Linked DNA regions of Homo sapiens: regions 2, 3 and 4 are each linked to region 1. Evidence: fine-mapped expression QTL. A gene starts in region 1. Each other region holds a variant in brackets. All regions are shown on one strand. Distances are from middle to middle. Region 1 holds the start of BLTP3B (bridge-like lipid transfer protein family member 3B). Region 2 overlaps BLTP3B (bridge-like lipid transfer protein family member 3B). Region 3 overlaps BLTP3B (bridge-like lipid transfer protein family member 3B). Region 4 overlaps BLTP3B (bridge-like lipid transfer protein family member 3B).

Region 1 (5,155 bases):
GGTAAACTATATTCTACTGTATCCCAGACCACTAGGTCAATGTAGTGACATCTTCATTACTGGATATTCTATAAAATTAAACTTGAACCAGGTAATTTCAAAAGTTCATTCCTTCCTGAGTAACTATAATTTATCACAACACCTGCCTTCTTTTGTCAATTACGAGCTGCCTTTAGATTTCTGAATAACTATTTTTCTTAGGAGATGACAGCAATTAGCAGTAAGATTAACTTATTAACCAAAAATAAAAATTTGATACTCTTTAGTCACCTGAGTTAAGGATGTTTTGAAATATGAAATAACTGAAAACTCAAGTGTCCCAAAAACTCATCTCTGAAAAAAAAAAAAATCCTCATCACACTATTTATCACACAGCTATTACAAATCATACAGATTTAGAAACTAACCCTAAGGGCCAGGCACGGTGGCTCACACCTGTAATCCCAGCACTTTGGGAGGCCAAGGCAGGCGGATCACCTGAGGTTGGGAGTTTGAGACCAGCCTAACCACCATGGAAAAACCCTGTCTCTACTAAAAATACAAAATTAGCCAGGCGTGGTGGCGCATGCCTGTAATCCCAGCTACTCGGGAGGCTGAGGCAGGAGAACTGATTGAAGCCAGGAGGCAGAGGCTGCCGTGAGCCGAGATCATGCCATTGCACTCCAGTCTGGGAAACAGAGTGAGACTCTGTCTCAAAAAAAAAAAAAAAAAAAAAAAAAATATATATATATATATATATATATAAAATAAAATAAAAACTAGCCCTAAAGACTCAATTTTCAATATATGGGTGTTTTCTATCTCATGCAGTAAGCCATTACATCTTTGTTCTTAATTTTTTTTATTATACTTTGGTATGCATGCTCTTAATTTTTAAGAGCCCCTCTCAAATGGAGTTCTATAAAAGAATTAAACTCTAATGCACTATCTGTTGATTGAATTAACTTTTCTTCCAAGCATCTAGAGTGGTACTAGCTATGCAGCATCATCCTTGGACGAGTGAGAAAGTAGGCATTCAAATCATTTTCTGCAGATCTGTATTTTCTTGTGGAGCTGGGTATGAGAAAGGCGGGAGGACATAAATTAAAAATAGATAAAACCTTCCAAAATAAGATAGTTCAAGATTGGGCCATATATATAATTTTAAAAGAAACTTTTCAATGAGTGATAACATTAAGAAATACATATTCATGCAGGGCGTGGGGGCTCACACCTGTAATCCCAGCACTCTGGGAGGCCGAGGACCGCGGATCACCTGAGGTTGGGAGTTCAAGACCAGCCTGGCCTGGTGAAACCCAGTCTCTACTAAAAAAATACTACATATATACACATATATATGTGTAGTGTATACACATATATATGTAGTACACATATATATGTATGTGTATATATGTGTATATATGTATATGTATATATGTACATATGTATATATATGTACACACACACACACACGCTGCTATACTTTGCTACTTTTAAGAAAAGTGCTATATCTTATTCAGTATTATAAGTGAGGAAAATATTTGCTGAATCACAGAAGTAGAATTCTGTTCCCAATATATAACCTGTGGTATAAGACAATCTGGGGAATCAAGAATTATGTTTACTATACAAGTCTATAATCATACCCGTGTCTTCCCAAAATTAGTTAAAATTAACTTACAAATCGAACAGAAAGGGATCCTAACCAAGGGCTTTGAGTTCGCTGGTAACAACTTGGAACAAGAGCCTACATTTAGCCTGTGTCTTGAGACAAACACGGAGAAGCCAAGAGCAGTAACAAACTGCCAGCCTTACTGAGTCATGTTTCTGACTAAAACCGCGTTATGAAATGGAGAGAATGACATGTCTTGGGTTTAATCACCACAGATGTTAACTCCCTGAATTTTAGAGTTGCAGAGGAAAAAGAGCAAAAACCAAAAAAAAAAAATGTTCAGTAATAATGATGTGGGTCTCATAGGACTCCAGAAAGAACCTGCCAAAGCTGCGAACTCTGCTTATTTACCTAAAACAAATCCTAACTGTGCAAACAGGCACACCCTCTGATGCCACAGAGCGGGAACGCCAAGGTGGGAGGAATTCAGAACAATCACAAGGTTAACGTTCCACTGAGAACACAGCCTCCACTGAGCGTCCACACTGCGCCAGAAGCCCTCGGTTAACGGAACCGCTCTGCTCCAAGGGGAAGGAGCACCGAACTCGAGTTAGAGCCCAGCACATTAACCAGGCACTTGGGTGACGCCAGGCCACCTCCAGCCTCCGCTCAGTACCGCACAGAGCCGAGCCGGGACGCCCCCAGACGCCGCGCCGGGAGCGATCCCAGCCCGCCGCGCTCCGCACTCCGGGCTCCTCCGCGCGCCCACCCTGGGAGAAGACGCGTCAGGGGCCGATTCGTGAGGCCAGCCCCCGGCGCCGCCGGCGACAAGAGATCCGGGGCCGCGACCTCTGCCCCGGCCAGAGCGGGGAAGTCCGAAGGTCGCCTCCCGCACAGCCGCCAGGCGCCGCCGCCCCCGAAGCCGCAGGCTGACTCCAGTGCGGGCTGGGGTGGAGGCCGACTGGCGCCGACACCGAGGCGCTCACTGACCTGGAGAGGTGCTTCAAGATTTGTTTCTTGATGATCCCGGCCATGGTACCGAGGCTGGAGACGCCGCGGTCTCGTCCTGTTGCTCACTGCCTCCTCTCTTCGTGGCCGTCTCCTCTCTGTCCCGGCTAGCCCGGCCGGCGGAGAGGCGCTGATCGCTCACGACCGGGAGAGACCCAAGGCCCCGGCCAAGGCCACAGCCGCCGCCGAGAACCCGGAGCATCACGCTCAGGCCGCCACGGCCGCCGCGGGCGCCATCTTGGCTGCAGCATCACCTAAGAGACTCGGTGGAGGGCGGGGGCGGGGCGGCTCCAGGCGGGGCCGGCACGAGGCGGGGCGGGGCCAACGCCGGCTCTGGGCGGGCTCTGGGCGGGCTCTGGCTGGGCTCTGGCTGGGCTCTGGGCGGGGGCGGGAGGTTTGTGGCATTGGCGCCAGGGTTCTTAGCCCTCGCGACACAGGGCCCTTGACTCTCAATACACCATCCTTCTTGGCCTTAATCCTCCCTCCTTCCCTCTGCTGGTGTTCCCGCCTCCATCGCTGACCCGTCGCTGATTTTTACTTCCACGTCCTACTTCCCTTATTCATTTCCTCAGAATGTTTTTTATTTTTTTGCTTGTTTGTTTTTTTTTTTGAGACAAGTCTTGCTCTGTCACACAGGCTGGAGTCCAGTGGTACGATCTCGGCTCATTGCAACCTCCACCTCCAGGGTTCAAGCGATTCTCCTGCTTCAGCCTCCTGAGTAGCTGGGATTACAGGTGCGCACCACCACGGCCGGCTAATTTTTGTATTATTAGAGACGAGGTTTCACCATATTGGCCAGTAGGTCTCGAACTTCTCACCTCGTGATCCACCCTCCTAGCCTCCCAAAGTGCTGACATTACAGGCGTGAGCCACTGCACCCGGCCTCCTTAGAATGTTTTAAGAATCGGCCATTAACTCCTGTGCTTGCTTTGCTCTCTTGACCTACTCACCTTTCTTCATATTCTTCCTTAGGTTTTTGTTTTTGGTGTTTTTTTTTTTTCTTTTGTTAAGGTGTCCTGCCTTTCCCTTACCTAAATGTGGCAATTTAATGTTTCCTTTGGTTATTGCTATTCTAAGGGAAGTAAAGGTTGACAATGGTTCCTAGTAGTCTAGGACCTAGGAATTAGAAGGTGTATAATTCAAGTCCTGGCTCTGGTATTTTCTAGCTGTGTTATCCTGGGGAAAATAATTTCTTTACTATTAGTTTCATTTTAATCATCTGTGAAATAGATTAATCATCAGCCTTACCCACTTCACTAGGTTGAACCTAAAGGTGTAAATATCATATGAAAAGTTCTGTAAGGAAGGAAGGAAATTGTTGAACTAGGGAAAACTGTTACAATTCTACACCTCCACCCCACCCAATCCCAAACAGAGCTAACATTTTCAGAGATTAAAATGACGACTTCTGTCATCCCAGCACTTTGGGAGGCCGAGGCAGGCAGATCACTTGAGGTCAGGAGTTCAAGACCAGCCTGACCAACATGGTGAAACTCTGTGTCTACAAAAAAAAAATACAAAAATTAGCTGGGCATAGTGGCGGGCGCCTGTAATCCCAGCTACTCAGGAGGCTGAGGCAGGAGAATTGCTTGAACCCGGGAGGCAAATGTTGCAGTGAGCTGAGATCAAGCCACTGCACTCCAGCCTGGGCGACAGAGCAAGACTGTCTCAAAAAAAAAAAAAATTACTCAGTGTTAAGTCAAGTTTAGCCTAACACTGCCTCCTTACGTAATTGAGTTCAGCCTAAAGGTTTTTCTGTACATCATGAACTTATGAAAATAAGCAGAGGTATAAACCGACCATAGCCCACACCTGTGCCAATCACTGAGTTTTGGCCAGATGTAGCCAACTGTTCAGACTGTGTTCAAATAAGGCAAACACTGAGCTGTAAGCAATCCAGTTGTTTCTGTACCTCACTTCCATTTTCTAGACCTCACTTTCCTTTTGCTGGCCAGAAATCTGCTCCCAGCATGTGGCTGTGCTGGAGTCTCTCTGAATCTGCTGTGATTATGGGGGCTGCCAGACTCAGGAATCGTTCATTGTTAAACTCCTTTAAATTTAATTTGGCTGAAGTTTTTCTTTTAACACTAGTGATATCTAAAACAGGAAAAGAAATTGTACCACCCCTGAGGGATGTATTAGCAAGATGTGTGGTTGTACATCTTGGGAGTTGGGTGGGAAGTAGTTTACACATAGTCCAATAAGCTGGCCCTTTTTGAAGAATGGAAAGGATAGACGTGTAAGTTGACTACACTCAACATTTCATTTTATTTTTATTTTATTTTTGAGACAGTCTTACTCCATCGCTCAGGCTGGAATGCAGCAGCACGATCTTGGCTCGCTGCGACCTCCGCCTCCCAGGTTCAATCAGTTCTCCTGCCTCAGCCTCCCAAGTAGCTGGGATTACCAGGCTAATTTTTGTATTTTTAGTAGAGACGGAGTTTCACCATGTTGGCCAGGCTGGTCTCGAACTCCTGACCTCACGTGATCCGCCCGCCTCAGCCTTCCAAAGTGTTGGGATTACAGGCATCAGCCACCACACCCAGCTGACTACAC
Region 2 (5,155 bases), 25 kb before region 1:
CAATAAGTAAGTATAGGCCGGGCGTCGTGGCTCACACTTGGAATCCCAGCAATTCGGGAGGCCAAAGCCAGGTGGATCACTTTAGCTCAGGAGTTTCAGGCAAGCCTGGGCAACATAGTGAGACCTTGTCTCTACAAAAAATTTTTAAATTAGCTAGGCACGGTGGCACACGCCTGTAGCTACCTGGGAGACTGAGGTAGGAAGATCCCTCAAGCCCGGGAGATTGAGGCTGCAGAGCTGTGATCGTGCCACTGTACTCCAGCCTTGGTGACAGAGTGAGATCCTGTCTGGGAAAAAAAAACAAAAAAACAAAAAAAACACACAAGTATAATACATCTTGACCAAGTGTTTATTCTAGAAATGAGGGCTGGTTTAAAACCAAAAACCAACTAATGCAATTCACCACATTAAAAGTAAAATCTAGGCCAGGCGAGGTGGCTCACGCCTGTAATCCCAGCACTTTAAGGCAGGCGGATCACCTAAGGTCAGGAGTTCAAGACCAGCCTGGCCAACATGATGAAATCCCATCTCTACTAAAAATACAAAAAAAGTTAGCTGGGTGTGGTGGTGCACACCTGCAATCCCAGTTACTCAGGAGGCTGAGGCAGGGGAATCACTCGAACCCAGGAGGCAGAGGTTGCAGTGAGCCGAGATGGTGCCAATGTACTCCAGCCCGGGTGACAGAATGAGACTGTCTCAAAAAAAAAAAAAAAAGTAAAATCTAGCCAGACACAGTGGCTCACGGCTGTAATCCTGACACTTTGGGAAGCTGACGTGGGAGGATGGCTTGAGCCCAGAAGTAGTGAGACCTCATCTGTACAAAAAATTAAAAGTTAGCTAAGCATAGTGGCAGGGGCCCGTAGTCCAAGTTACTCAGAAGGCTGAGGTGAGAGGACTATTTGAGCCCAGGAGGTGGAGTTGGTGCCTAGATCATACCACCACACTCCAGCCTGGGCAACAGAGCAAGATCCTGTCTCAAAAAAAAAAAAAAAAAAGAAAAGAAAAAAAAAGGTAAAATTACATCATGTTCTCAATAGAGCCCAAAAAAGCATTTTACAAAAGTCAACACCCATTCATGAAAAAATAACTCTCAACAAGACAGGAACAGAAGAGAACTTCCCCAAAACTCTAAAGGACATCTACAAAAACTCTACAGCTAAAATTACGTGTAATGAGAAAAGACTAAAATTGCTTTTCCCCTAAGACAGGGACAAGGCAAGGGTGTTTGCTCTCATCACTTTTTTCCAACAATGTATTGAAGGTTCTAGCCAACACAATAAGGTAAGAAAAATATATAAAAGGCATCTGGTTTTGAAAAGTAGTAAAATTATTTTTTCCCAGATGACATGATCACCTGTGTAGAAAATCATACAGAATTATTAAAGACATTGCCAGAACTAAAAAATGAGTGTAGCAATGTTGCAGGATATAAGGCCAATATAAAAATAAATCAGTTGAAGGGACAGAGGAGCCGTAAGAAAGAATTACCAATAGCCAAAGCTGAAAGAATCTGAGCAACAAAATAAATAAAACAGTACTGGATAATAACACAAACTATAAAACAAAAATACAGAAGTCTACACTAATATAAACATATGATTAAATAAATAAATAACTTGGAGAAAATAGAGAAATCTTCCTGGCAGAAAAGTTCCAAAAAAATTACATAGATATTCTAGTCTCAGGGAGGTGGAGCATAACTCCTCATTCTTTTAGTGAGGGCTGCACATAGTACTTCCTTCCAAAATGTTCAGTAAGAAAATGGGGAAAAGAATAACTTTACAGTGGAGAACTTGGCAAATGCTACATCAGCCAGGTTATCAACGTCAACATCGGCAATAAGACATGTTGATAATATGTACCCCTGATTTGACATAATAAAAAGAGCTCTTAACTAACCTCTGTGGTCTCCTTGCCAAAAACCCCTAATGCCAATCTAATCCTAAGAAAAAGGGTAGACATACACTAGTGACTTCAGAATTACCTGCAGAACTTTTTATTTATTTATTTTGAGGCAGTCTCGTTCTGT[C/T]GCCCAGGCTGGAGGGCAGTGGTGTGATCACAGCTCACTGCAGCCTTGAACTCCTGGGCTCAAGTGATCCTCCCCTGCCTCGACCTCCTAAGATCCTCCCCTGCCTCCACCTCCCCTGCCTCCACCTTGACCTCCTCAACATGCCCAGCACCACCACGTCCAGCTCATTTTTAATTTTTTTGTAGAGATGGGGTCTCGCTGTGTTGCCCAGGCTGGTCTCAAACTCCTGGGCTCAAGCAATCCTCCTGCTGTGGCCTCCCAAAGTGCTGGGATTACAGGCATGAGCCACCGCACCTGACCTTTGGGGTGCTTTTTAAAACTACTCCATTTCAAGCCCATTCCCAGAGATTCTGGTGCTCTTGATATGGAGCAGGGCCTAGAAATCTCCATTTTAGGAAGTTATCTGGGGGACTCATTTATATGCATCAGATTTAAAATCACAGATTTATCGTGGAGGAGATACAAAGAATGCCTTTTTTATACTACTCTTATCAATCCTGGACTTATGTGTATCGATTTTATAGAGCAACCAAAGATATCTTGACACAGTTGAAATTGGCATTTCTCTTGGTCCCAGAAAAAAAAATGAGTAATTTTATATAAATTTTTGTATTTTTTTTAAAGGAAAACAGCAGACAAACCCCAATTGAAGGACACTGTACAAAACACGTGGCCAGGTCTCCTCAAAACTTTCAAGGTTGGCTGGGCACGGTGGCTTATGCCTCTCCAAAAAAATAAAATATTAGCCAGGTGTAGTGGTGCATGCCTGTAGTTCTAGCTACTCAGGAGGCTGAGGCAGGAGGACTGCTTAAGCCCAGGAGGTTGAGGCTGCAGTGAGTCATAATCACACTACTGCACTCCAGTCTGGGAGAGTGAGTGAGACCGTCTCAAAACAAAACAAAACAAAACAAAACAAAAAACTCTCAAGGTCTTCAAAAACAAGGAACGTCTGAGAAATGGGCACAACCAAGAGGAGCCTAAAAAGACATGATGACTAAATGTAATATATTTGGAATGGGACCATGGAATAGAAAAAGGACATTGGGTAAAAGAAATACTAAGGAAATTTGAACAGAGTATGGCCTATAATAATTATCAACATTAGTTAATTGTGATGAACCATATGAATGTAAAATGCTAATAGTAAGAGAGACTAAATGTTGGGTATGAGAATTCTGCATTATCTTCACAACCTTTCTATAAATCCATAACTATTCTAAGATTAAAAGCTTATTTTTAAAAAATCAGAGCTGATTATGGAAAGTTTATTCATTTTATTGTATGTAAATTTCACTCAATAAAAATTATAATAAAGAAATCAGCTGGGTGTTGCGGTTCATGCCTGTAACTCCAGCACTGTGGGAGGCCAAGGCGAGCAGATCACAACGTCAGGAGTTCAAAGACCAGCCTGGCCAACATGGTAAAACTCTGTCTTTACTAAAAATACAAAAATTAGCTGGGCTTAGTGGCATGCACCTGTAGTCCCAGCTACTCGGGAGGCTGAGGCAGGAGAATTGCTTGAACTCAGGAGGCGGAGGTTGCAGTGAGCCGAGATCGCGCCACTGCACTCCAGCCTGGGCGACAGAGCCAGACTCTGTCTCAAAAATGAAATAAAATAAAAAAATAAATAAATAAATTATGTTTCTATATGTAGCAACAATCAGAAACTGAATATTTTAAACTACCATTAACATTAGCATAAGAAATATGAAATTTTTAGGGATAAATTTGTCAAAAGGTGTGCAAGACCTAGAAACTGAAAACTACAAAATACTGTTGCAAGAAATTGAAGAAGATCTAAATAAATGAAGAAATAAAACATATTAGTGGATTAAACTCAATACTGTTAAAATGTCATCAATTCTCTCAAAAAGACTTACAGATTCAAGGCAACCCTAAGCAAAACCCAAGCAGGCTTCTTTTTTGAGAGAAATGACATACTGATTCTAAAATTTTCATGAAAATGTAGAAGACCTAGAATATCCAAAATAACTCTGAAAAAGATGAACAAAGTTGGAAACATTATACTGCCAATTTCAAGACTTATCTAAAAGCTACAGTAATCGAGGCAGTCTGATAATGGTGGGTGTAAATAAATAATAAATGCAACAAAATACAGAGTCCAGAAAAAGACCCAAATTCATGGTTAGCTAATTTCCAACAAAGGTGCAAAAACAAGTCAATGAAAATAATATTTTTAAGAAGTGGTACCAGAATGATGTTACAGCCATATGCAAAAAAAACAAAAAACAAAAAAATCCTTGACCTTTACCTCACCCCATAAACAAAAATTAACTCTAAATTATCACAGACCTAAATCTAAGAACTACAACTTAAAAACTCCTGAAGAAAATATTAGTAACCTTGAGTTTGGTAGATTTAACGCAACAAAAAATGCACAAATCATAGGAGAAAAAAATAAGTTAGTGGATCAAAATTAAAACCTCTGCCCTTTGAAAGACACTGTAACTACAGGGCAACCATAGACTGGGAAAAAATATTTCCAAAGCATATATTTGAAAAAAGACTTGTACCTACAATTTTTTTTAAATTCTTACAACTTGAAAGTAAGACAATTCACTAACAGGCAAAAGGCCTGGGCGTGGTGCCTCACGCCTGTAATCCCAGCACTTCGGGAGGCCTAGGCGGGCGGATCACCTGAGATAAGGAGTTTGAGACCAGCATGGCCAAAATGGCAAAACCTCATTTCTACTAAAAATACAAAAATTAGCTGAGCGTGAGACAGGCGCCTGTAATCCCAGCTACTCGGGAGGCTGAGGCAGAATTGCTTGAACCTAGGAGGTGGAGGTTTCAGTGAGCCAAGATCGCACCACTGCACTCCAACCTGGGTGACAGAGCAAGATTCCATCTCAAAAAAGAAAAAAATAAAAATAAAAAATAAAATAGGCAAAAGATTTAAAGGGACCTTGGAACCAAAGAAGACACAGATGGCAGATAGGCACTTGAAAAGATGCCCAACATTAGTCATTAGAAAACTGCAAATTAAAAACCACAGTAAGATACCACTACTTATCCACTAAAATAGCTAAAATTAAAAAGGCTAACTATACTGAGTATTGGTGAAGATATGGAGCAACTGGAACTCTCATATACGTATTTGTGAGA
Region 3 (5,155 bases), 69 kb before region 1:
AAGGCAAAATCTATGGTATAAGGATCAGAAGTTCCTTTTGAAACTAAAAACATATATTAATAGGGTGGGTGCGGTGGCTCATGCCTGTAATCTCAGCACTTTGGGAAGCCAAGGAGGTCAGATCATTTGAGGCCTAGAGCTCAAGACCAGCTTGGCCAACAAGGAGAAAAGAAACCTCACCTCTACTAAAAAAAAAATTAACAAAAATCAGCCAGATGTGGTGGTGCATGCCTGTAGTCCCAGCTACTCAGGAGAATCACTTGAACCTGGTAGGCAGAGGTTGCAGTGAGCTGAGATCGCACCACTGCATGCCAGTCTGGGCAACAGAGCAAGAATCTGTCTCAGAAAAAAAAACAACATATATTAATAAATCAATATTAAATAAATGGGCAAGTAGGTCTAAGTATTTTGGAGTTCTACTTTTAAAGAAAGGACATAAAACTTGTTATGCCTCTGATAACAAAACCTATTTCATCTAAATATTTTCAACTATGATTTTCAGCTAGCATGATGAAAAAGGTATCACAGAAAAGAGGGCAACATTTAGTTTAAGAATTCCGAGATGGGCCAGGTGCAGTGGCTCACACCTGTAATCCCAGCACTTCGGGAGGCTGAGGTAGGCAGACCACTTGAGGCCAGGAGTTAGAGACCAGCCTGGCCAACATGACAAAACCCTATCTCTATCAAAAACACAAAAATTAGCCGGGAGTGTTGGCACACACATGTAGTCCCAGCTACTCGGAAGCCTGGGGCACAAGAATTGTTTGGGCCCGGGAGGCAGAGGTTCCAGTGAGCCAAGATCACGCCACCGCACTCCAGCCTGGGTGACAGAGCAAGACTATGTCTCCAAAAAAAAAAAAAAAAAAAAAGGAATTTCTAGATGAACTGAGACAATAGCAGAGAGTTTTAATATTCAAAGAATACAAATGTACAATCATTTTAATGTTAGGAAGCTAAAGAGTTTTAATATTCAAAGAATACAAATGTACAATCATTTTAACGTTAGAAAGCCAAAGAAGCTTCTAAAAATAAAAATTCATGTAATTCAATATTTCTGAAAATTGTAAATGCTAAAAGTTGCCCAAAGTATACATTTAGGCATTTTAAAACAGTCAAAAAAATTCTCTACAGCTAAAAGGACAACTTCAGTTACTTTTTCAATAATATATAAATGAAGTTATATAGCTGACATATAAATGGAGTTTTACTAAGGGGAAACAAATGACTTTATTCTACAAATAACCTAGCTTTCATTGATTCTTTAACAAACAGCTATTAAGCACAAAGTAAGTTGAATATCTGGAATAAAATGAACATAAATACCAGATGTGCTGGACATGGCGGCTCATGCCTATAATCCCAGCACTATGGGAGTCCAAGGTGGGCAGATCACTTGAGGTCAGGAGTTCAAGATCAGCCTGGCCAACATGGTGAAACCCTGTCTCTAGTAAAACACAGAAAAATTAGCTGGGCCTGGTGGTGCATGCCTGTAATCCCAGCTACTCAGGAGGCTGAGGCACAAGAATCGCTTGAACCTGGGAGGCCAAGGCTGCAGTGAGCCGAGATCGTGCCACTGCACTCCAGCCTGGGCAACAGAGCGAGACTCTGCCTTGAAAAAAAAACAAAAAACAAAAAACGAAAAAACCTCATGATTCCTGCCATCAAGGATTCTACAAGCTAGGGAGGGAAAAGGATACATAAACAAATAATAACAACATCTAAAACTGTTAGACTAGACTTATGCACTATACACAATAAGAATAAAGAACAATAGGGGCTGGGCACAGTGGTTCATGCCTGCAATCCCAACACTTTGGGAGGCCAAGGCAGGAGTATGGCTTGAGCCTAGGAGTTTGAGATCAGCCTGGGCAACACAGTGAGATGCTAGCTCTCAAAAAACTAATAATAAATAAGGAACAATACAGTTTTATTTATTTTTCATATTTATAAAACTCAAAAATATTAACAAGAAAAAAATACTTTCTCAAATAATGGACAAATAATAATTAAAAACTCTCTTACTTGGAAAATCCTTTCCATCTGGATAGTAATATTCTGTGAATTCTATATAGACAGCTGACATTTCTTGTGGAAGATATAGGGATTTTTTATTGCAGCAAATCATGCTTTTGGGGGAAGAACGACATTGTTCCGCTGTAGAGACCTGAAAAGATAAATAAGTTTACTGAAATCACACTGAATAAAAACCTTTCCAAATAATTTATGCAACCCAGACAGTACTTTTAAAACTACTTACAAAACTTTGCTAATGGTTAATTTCCAGTGTAAACTTTATTATATATTTAACTTCACATGGAATTATTTTTAAACACCCATCAACTATTCAGAAAACTCTATAATCTTTTTGGATCCTTATCAATCACAAAATCAACACTGTACAATATTCCTTACAAACTTATTATTGTGAGCCTTAAAAACAACAGAAAAATGATAACGATATTCTATCAGATAATATAGATAAGTAAATGGCAGTCAGGACATAGATCCAAGTCCTCAAATCCAGAATGCTTCCCCGTACGCTGTTTAAAATAATCTTTACCATAATCTCTCCATTACCATGAAAAGTAACAGAGCTATATACAGTTTCTGCTTGAGATAATAAAAATTCTGGAGACAAATAATGGTACTGGTTACACAACAACGTGAATGTGCTTAACGACAATTATTATATAATATATAGATACAGACACAG[A/AT]TTTTTTTTTTTTTTTTGGTAGAGACGGGGTTTCGCCATGTTGGCCAGGCTGGTCTCAAACTCCTGACCTCAAGCAATCCACCCACCTCAGCCTCCCAAAGTGCTGGGATTACAGGCGTGAGCCACTGCACCTAGCCGATATTATTAGGTTGGTGCAAAAGTAATTGCAGTTTTGCCATTACTTTCAATGGCAAAAACCTAAATATGTATATGTGTGTGTATATATATATAATTATTATTGTAAATTCAGTCATACCTTACCACAATAAAAAATTAATTTAAAAATAATAGCTATAAACACTTCCGTCAAATAGTTTGATCGCTCGAATTCATTTTCCAAAAAGACTATGTTTCATACACAAATCAATAAATATGATTCACCACAAACAGAACTAAAAACAAAAACCATATGATTATCTCAATAGGCAAAGAAAATGCTTTTGATAAAATCCAACGTCCCTTCACAATAAAAACCCTCAACAAACTATGAATCAAAGAAACATACCTCAAAACAGTAAGAGTAATCTATGACAAACTCACAGCTAATATCGTTCTGAAGCGGCAAAAGCTGAAATCATTTCCCTTAAGGAATGGAACAAGACAAGGATGCCCCCTCTCACAACTCCTACTCAAAATAGTACTGGAAGTTCTAGCTAGAGCAATCAGGCAAGAGAAAGAAAGAAAGGGCATCCAAATAGGAAAAGAAGTCAAATTATTTCTCTTCGCTGACAATATGATTCTATACCTAGAAAATGCTAAACTCCACGAAAAGACTCCCATGACTGATAAGCAACTTCAATAAAGTTTCAGGATACAAAATCAATGTAAACAATCAGCAGTATTTTTATATACCAGTAACATTCAAGCTGAAAGCCAAACAACAACAACAACAACAGCAACAACAAATCCTAGGAATACATCTAACCAAAAGATAAAAGATCTCTACAAGAACTGGGCCAGGCATGATGGCTCACACCTGTAATCCCAGCACGGTGAGAGGCTGAGGCGGGCAGATCATTTGAGGCCAGGAGCTCGAGACCAGCGTGGCCAACATGGCGAAACCCCATCTCTACCAAAAATACAAAAATCAGCTGGGCGTGGTGGCACACGCCTGTAATCCCAGTTACTTGGGAGGCTGAGGCATAAAAATCGCTTGAACTCGGGAGACGGAGGTTGTAGTGAGCTAACACCACTGTATTCCAGCCTGGGCAACAGAACAAGACTCTGTTTCAAAAAAAAAAAAAAAAAGTCCACACTGCTGAAAACAATATACAGACTCAATGTCATTCCTATCAAACTACAAACATCATTTTGCACAAAATTAGAAAAAAATTTTAAAATATTTAAAAATTCATATGAAACCCAAAAGCCTGAATAGCCAAAGCAACTCTAAGAAAAAAGAACAAAGCTGGAGACATTACATAACTATACTATAAGGAACCAAAATGGCATGGTACTGATACAAAAACAGAGACATAGATCAATGGAACAGAATAGAGAACCCAGAAATAAAATCGCACACCTATAACTATCTGATCTTTGACAAATTCAACAATCACAAGCAATGGGGAAAGGACACCCTATTCAATGAATGGTGCCTGGATGACTGGCTAGTCATATTTAGAAGAATGAAACTGGACCCCTACACCTTCCTTTTTTTTTTTTTTGAGACGGAGTCTAGCTCTGTCACCCAGGCTGGAGTGCAATGGCATGATCTCAGCTCACTGCAACCTCTGCCTCCCGGGTTCAAGCAATTCTCCTGCCTCAGCCTCCTGAGTAGCTGGGATTACAGGCGCGCACCACCACGCCCAGCTAAGTTTTGTATTTTTAGTAGAGATGGGGTTTCACTATGTTGGCCAGGCTGGTCTCGAACTCCTGACCTCGTGATCCGCCCACCTCGGCCTCTCAAAATGCTGGGATTACAAGTGTGAGCCACCACGCCCGGCTACACCTTCTACTATATACAAAAATTAACTCAAGATGGAACAAATATTTAAATATAAGAAGTCAAACTATAAAAGTCCTAGAAGAAAAGCTAGGAAATACCATTCTGGACATAGGCTTTAGCAAAGAATTTATGGCTAAGACCTCAACGGCAATCACAACAAAAACAAAAATAGACAAGTGAGACCTCATTGGAGAGCTTCTATACAGCAAAATAAACTATCAACAGAGTCAACAGACATCCTACACAATGGGAGAAAATACTCACAAATTATTCATCTGACAAAGGTCTAATATCCAGAATCTATAAGGAACTTGAACAAAAGTCAACAAGCAAAAACCAAACACCATTAAAAAGTGGGCAAAGGACATGAACACACACTTCTCAAAAGAAGACATATGTGCAGCCAACAAGCATATGAAACAATGCTCAATACACTAATCATCATTAATCATCAGAGAAATGTAAATCGAAACCACAGTGAGATACCATCTCAG
Region 4 (5,155 bases), 32 kb before region 1:
TGTCTTCATTTGAAAAGTATTTACTCACTACTTTTTAAAAATTGTTTTGAGACAGGGTCTCACTCCGTCACCCAGGCTGGAGTGCAGTGGCACAATCATGACTCACTGCAGCCTCACCCTTCCAGACTCAACCGATCATCCTGCTTCAGCTTCCCAAGTAGCTGGGCCTACAGGCGCATGTGCTACCATGTTGGGCTATTTTTTTATTTTTATTTTTAGTATAGATGCAGTCTCATTATGTTACCCAGGCTAGTCTCAAACTCCTGGGCTCAAGCAATCCGCCTACCTCGGCCTTCCAAAGTGCTGGGATTACAGGTGTGAGCCACCATGCCCAGCAACTCACTACAAGTTTAGATTGTCCCATTTGACAATAAAACTTATGAAAAAACTATCTTTGAACATGTACCAAATGGATGCAATTATTTTATTAACAAATTAATAATTTTGAAATATTAATGGAATCACTTTACACAAAAATTAAGATCTATAAAGTAGTTAATATATGCCTTTACACATAAGGCACACATTTATGCAAAGGTATCTTTCTTTTGAAATTATATTAATAAAAATGTTTTTACACAATTATCTAAAATTAAGTATTTTAAAAGCTAGAGCCAAAATATAGAAGGAAAACATGAAAGGCCTTCCACAAATATCAAGCCACAGATATCAAAGTCTCACCCTAATGGACGCTTTATTACAAAAAACTTTGTTGATAGCAAGCCATGTTGGCAAATCCAACATATTCTGGAGTACTTCTTCATCCAACTCCAAATTCTTCAGTTCACCTTCTCCTTTAAGGGTACTTAGATTTATCTTGTCAGGAGATAAATTTTTGGTAAATCTGAAAGAGAATACACATTGACATTTATTTATGTGTCAGTTACTATACTCCAGAGTCATTTTTTCAAATATACAGAGAACTAAAAATATAATAGGAGTGGACACAACATAATGTCCATCAACGACAAATGGATAAAGAAAATGTGGTACATATACACGATGGAGTATTATTCAGCCATAAAAAAGAATGAGATCCTGTCATTTGCAACAACATGGATGGAACTGGAGGACACTACAGTTAAGTGAAACAAACCAGGCACAGAAAGACAAACTTTACACACTCTCGTTCATTTGTGGGAGCTAAAAATTAAAACAATTGAATACATGGAGATCAAGAGTAGAAATGATGGTCACCAGAGGCTGGAAAGGGTAGTGGTGGGGAGCAGGGGTGGGAATGGGTAGTGGGTACAAAAATACAATTAGGTAGAATGAATACAATACTGATATGGTTTGGTTCTGTGTCCCCACCCAAATCTCACCTCTAATTGTAATCCCCACATGTCAGGGGAAGGAGCTGGTGGGAGGTGACTGGATCATGGGGGTAGTTTCTCATGATAGTTAGGGAGTGAGTTCTCACAAGATCTGATGATTTAAAAGTGTCTGGCAGTTTTCCTCTCTCTCTCTCTCTCTCTCTCTCTCTCTCTCTCTCTCTCTCTCTCTCTCTCTCCTGCCACCATGTAAAACATGCCTTGCTTCACCATCACCTTCCACCATGATTGTGAGTTTCCTGAGGCCTCCCCAGCCATGCAGAAGTGTAAGCCAATTAAACTTCTTTCTTCAGTCTCAGGTATGTCTTCATAGCAGTATAAAAACGGACTAAGACAGATATAGTATTCAACAGCACAACAAAGTGACTACAGTCAACAATAATTTATTGTACGTTTTAAAGTAATTGTGTAACTGGAATGTCTGTAACACAAAGAAATGATAAAGGCAGCCAGGTGCGTGGCTCACACCTATAATCCCAGCATTTTAGGAGTCTGAGGAGGGCGGATCACTTGAGGGCAGGAGTTCAAGACCAGCCTGGCCAACATGGTGAAACCTGGTCTCTACTAAAAATACAAAAATATTAGCTGGGCATGTTGGCGCATGCCTGTAGTCCCAGCTATTCAGGAGGCTGAGGTGGGAGTTTCGCTTCAGTCCAGGAGGTGGAGAATGCAGTGAGCTGAGATTGTGCCACTGCACTCCAGCCTGGGTGACACAGTGAGACCCTGTCTCA[GA/G]AAAAAAAAAAAAAAAAGATTGGAAATAGTTAATGTAAGAGTGAGCATTTTCCAAGGGTTTACTGTGTTCCAAGCTCTTGGCATACATGCGTGACTATTTCATTTAGTTCCCATGATAACCTATTAGGGTCTATACTAATTTTAACCCAATTTTTGAATAAGTAAACCTAAGGAGAAACTTGAACTTACTTGCCTAATATCACAACTAACAATGAAAATACATTACACATCTACTTTGAAATACATTCATATACATTACTTTATCTTCCAAACAACCCTAAAAAATAAAAATTACTAACTATGCCCAACAAATAATTTTTCAAAAGTGAAATTACTGAAAAAAACTAAACTACTGGCTAACAAGAGTTAGTCTTTACTTTTTTTGGAAATTAAATATAAAGCAACATTATATACTGGGTTATTCACATGCCCTACTTGTCAACAAGAATACCAATCAATAAACTCATGTTTCTCCACTGACTCCAAACCAGAATTTGAGCCAGATTCTATCTGAATTCATATCTTCTCACAGGATGTCAACTGAGAAATACAACAATCATTTAACACATGTATTTGACCAATGATGCTGAGCTGTATTACACTTGCTTCTGATCACGCTTGATTCAATACCACGACGCTTTCTCATAGAATGCCATTCCTAACCATAGATAACAAACAAAAAACCCTGCCACTTCCCTGAGGCAGAATATTAGAGCCAGAAGACAACACTCAATAAGTATTTATTGAGAATTCATTATGCAGACACACATACTGGGAAGCAGTACACTTGAGGTCCCTGCCCTTGTGGAGTTTTCAGTTTAGTTGGTGAGACGGATCAAATGGCACAACTAAGAGAGAATATAGCAGGAGTTCTAATCCAGAGCTTCTCTGAAACAGGGACTTTTGAGCTGGTATCTAAAGGAAGAGAAGTTAACTAGGCAAGGAGGAAAAGGGGGTAGGGAAAGAAAGTATTCCAAGCAGAGGAATAAAATGCATAAAGGTTCTAAGACAGGAGGGAGATGATATAAAGTGGAATTGAAAAAATATCAGAAATACTGTTATCTGTAATATTTATAGGGAAGGAAGGATGGACAACAGACTAATCTGAGTAACTCAAACAGAATATTTGACTATATATTCTAACATTTGACTATATATCCTTAGTCTTGGGCATGGAGGAATATGGGGATGGAGGTGAAGCATGGTTAGTGAAGAAATCAGGCAACACCTTGATTGGGTATGTACAAGAATGTTCATTTCAAGGATATCTACAAGAAAAAAAGAGTGAAAACAATCTAAACGTCCCAAGAGGGATACCCCATCTAATTATAATACACTATATTATTAATACATACATATCAAGTAATATATGTTGCCAGTCTTATAAAGAAATGTTTATATTATAATGTTTGATGAAAATTCAAGTCACAAAATTATGTGCTATAATTTCAAGTATGTAAAAAATGCATCATAAAATCCCATGACTACCTATGGCTGGTGGGGTTTTAGATTTTTTTTTTTTTTTTTTTTTTTTTTGCTTTTTTGAGACACGGTCTCGCTCTGTTGTCCAGGGTGGAGTGCAGTGGTGTGATCATGGCTCATTTCAACCACGACCGCCTGGACTCAGGTGATCCCACCTCAGCTTTCCAAGTAGCTGGGACCACCACACCCAGCTAATTAGTTTATTTATTTAATTTACTTTGAGACAGGGTCTCACCCTGTTGCCCAGGCTAGAGTGCAGTGGTTTGATTTTGGCTCACTGCAACCTCCACCTCCAAAGCAGTTGGGACCATGGGCACATGCCACCATGCTCAGCTAGTTTTTTGTTTTTTTTTGTTTGTTTGTTTTGTTTTGTTTTGAGACAGTCTTGCTCTGTCACCCAGGATGGAGTGCAGTGGCACAATCTCAGCTCATTGCAACCTCTGCCTTCTGGGTTCAAGCGATTCTCCTGCCTCAACCTCCTGAGAAGCTGGGATGACAGGCACGCACCACCACGCCCAGCTAATTTTTGTATTTTTAGTAGAGACGGGGTTTCACCATGTTGGTCAGGCTGGTCTCTAACTCCCGACCTTGTGATCCATCCACCTCGGCCTCCCAAAGTGCTGGCTGGGATTACAGGCATGAGCCACCGTGCCCAGCCCCAGCTAGTTATTTTTTAAAGACAGGGACTCACTATGTTGCTCAGGCTGATATCGAATCCCTGGGGTCAAGCAATCCTCCTGCCTCAGCCTCCCAAAGTGCTGGGATTACAGGTGTGAACCACCACACCCAGCCTAGATTTACTTCTCCTTATTTATACTTCTCTGTATAAGTATTCTATAACGAGCATGTACCACTTTTATAAAGACAAAAGTTCAAGGGAAACCAAAAAAGCCTGGCCTGGCAAGAGCAAAAGTGAAAAATGAGGAGGATTAAAATATATGTAATTTAGCCAGGAGCAGTGGCTCATGCTTGAAATCTCAGCAGTTTGAGAGGCCAAGGCAAGAAGATCACTTGAGCCCAAGAGTTTGAGACCAGCCTGGGCTGGTCTATATATTAGTGAGTGACTATATTAGTGAGACCCTATGTCTACAAAAAATTTAAAAAAGAATTAGCCAGGCATAGTGGAACACTCCTGTAGTCCCAGTTACTGAGGGGACTGAGCTGGGAGGATTGCTTGAGCCTGGGAGGTCAAGGCTGCAGTGATCCATAATTTTGCCACTGCACTCCAGCCTGGGTGACAGAGCCTTTGTCTCAAAGACAAAACAAAAAACAAAAATAATAGCTAACAACAGCAATAAAATTTCCAAGCAAATGAAAAAAGTAGACTTGATTTAGATTATACATTTTACAATCAATACACCATTATTAGGGTCTAAATTATGTGCACTGCACTAAGTAAACATTTAAGGGCAAAACAAAACAAAACAAAAAGGTCCATATAATCAAAGATTTATAATTTGGTTAAGGGAACAGAGAATAAATGCACAAAAAGCCAAGAATCTCAGGAGGCTGAGGCAGGAGAATTGCCTGAACCCGGGAGGCGGAGGTGGCAGTGAGCCGAGATTGCACCACTGCACTCCAGCCTGGTGACAGAGCAAGACTCCATCTCA

What was found.
Region 2: its variant is fine-mapped to the expression of BLTP3B in whole blood (TOPMed, PIP above 0.99).
Region 3: its variant is fine-mapped to the expression of BLTP3B in whole blood (INTERVAL, PIP above 0.99).
Region 4: its variant is fine-mapped to the expression of BLTP3B in whole blood (INTERVAL, PIP above 0.99).

The regions. Positions count from the first base shown.
Region 1 is chr12:100,140,011-100,145,165 of GRCh38, forward strand. It overlaps BLTP3B (bridge-like lipid transfer protein family member 3B), which reads right to left and starts at 2,864. Exons shown (of 21, transcript NM_015054.2): 1 at 2,582-2,864. The coding sequence starts at 2,625. It overlaps BLTP3B-DT (BLTP3B divergent transcript), which reads left to right and starts at 3,045. Exons shown (of 2, transcript NR_186018.1): 1 at 3,045-3,333; 2 at 4,530-4,661. RefSeq lists silencers at 2,279-2,528, 2,849-3,028 and an enhancer at 2,409-3,172.
Region 2 is chr12:100,115,472-100,120,626 of GRCh38, forward strand. The region is part of intron 1 of BLTP3B (bridge-like lipid transfer protein family member 3B); the gene reads right to left. Among named protein-coding and RNA genes, the nearest start is that of BLTP3B, 25 kb to the right of the region's middle. The variant C/T (reference allele first, on the strand shown) is at 2,030.
Region 3 is chr12:100,070,650-100,075,804 of GRCh38, forward strand. BLTP3B (bridge-like lipid transfer protein family member 3B) reads right to left here. Exons shown (of 21, transcript NM_015054.2): 12 at 2,023-2,164. Among named protein-coding and RNA genes, the nearest start is that of BLTP3B, 70 kb to the right of the region's middle. The variant A/AT (reference allele first, on the strand shown) is at 2,714.
Region 4 is chr12:100,107,705-100,112,859 of GRCh38, forward strand. It overlaps BLTP3B (bridge-like lipid transfer protein family member 3B), which reads right to left. Exons shown (of 21, transcript NM_015054.2): 2 at 682-844. Among named protein-coding and RNA genes, the nearest start is that of BLTP3B, 33 kb to the right of the region's middle. The variant GA/G (reference allele first, on the strand shown) is at 2,063.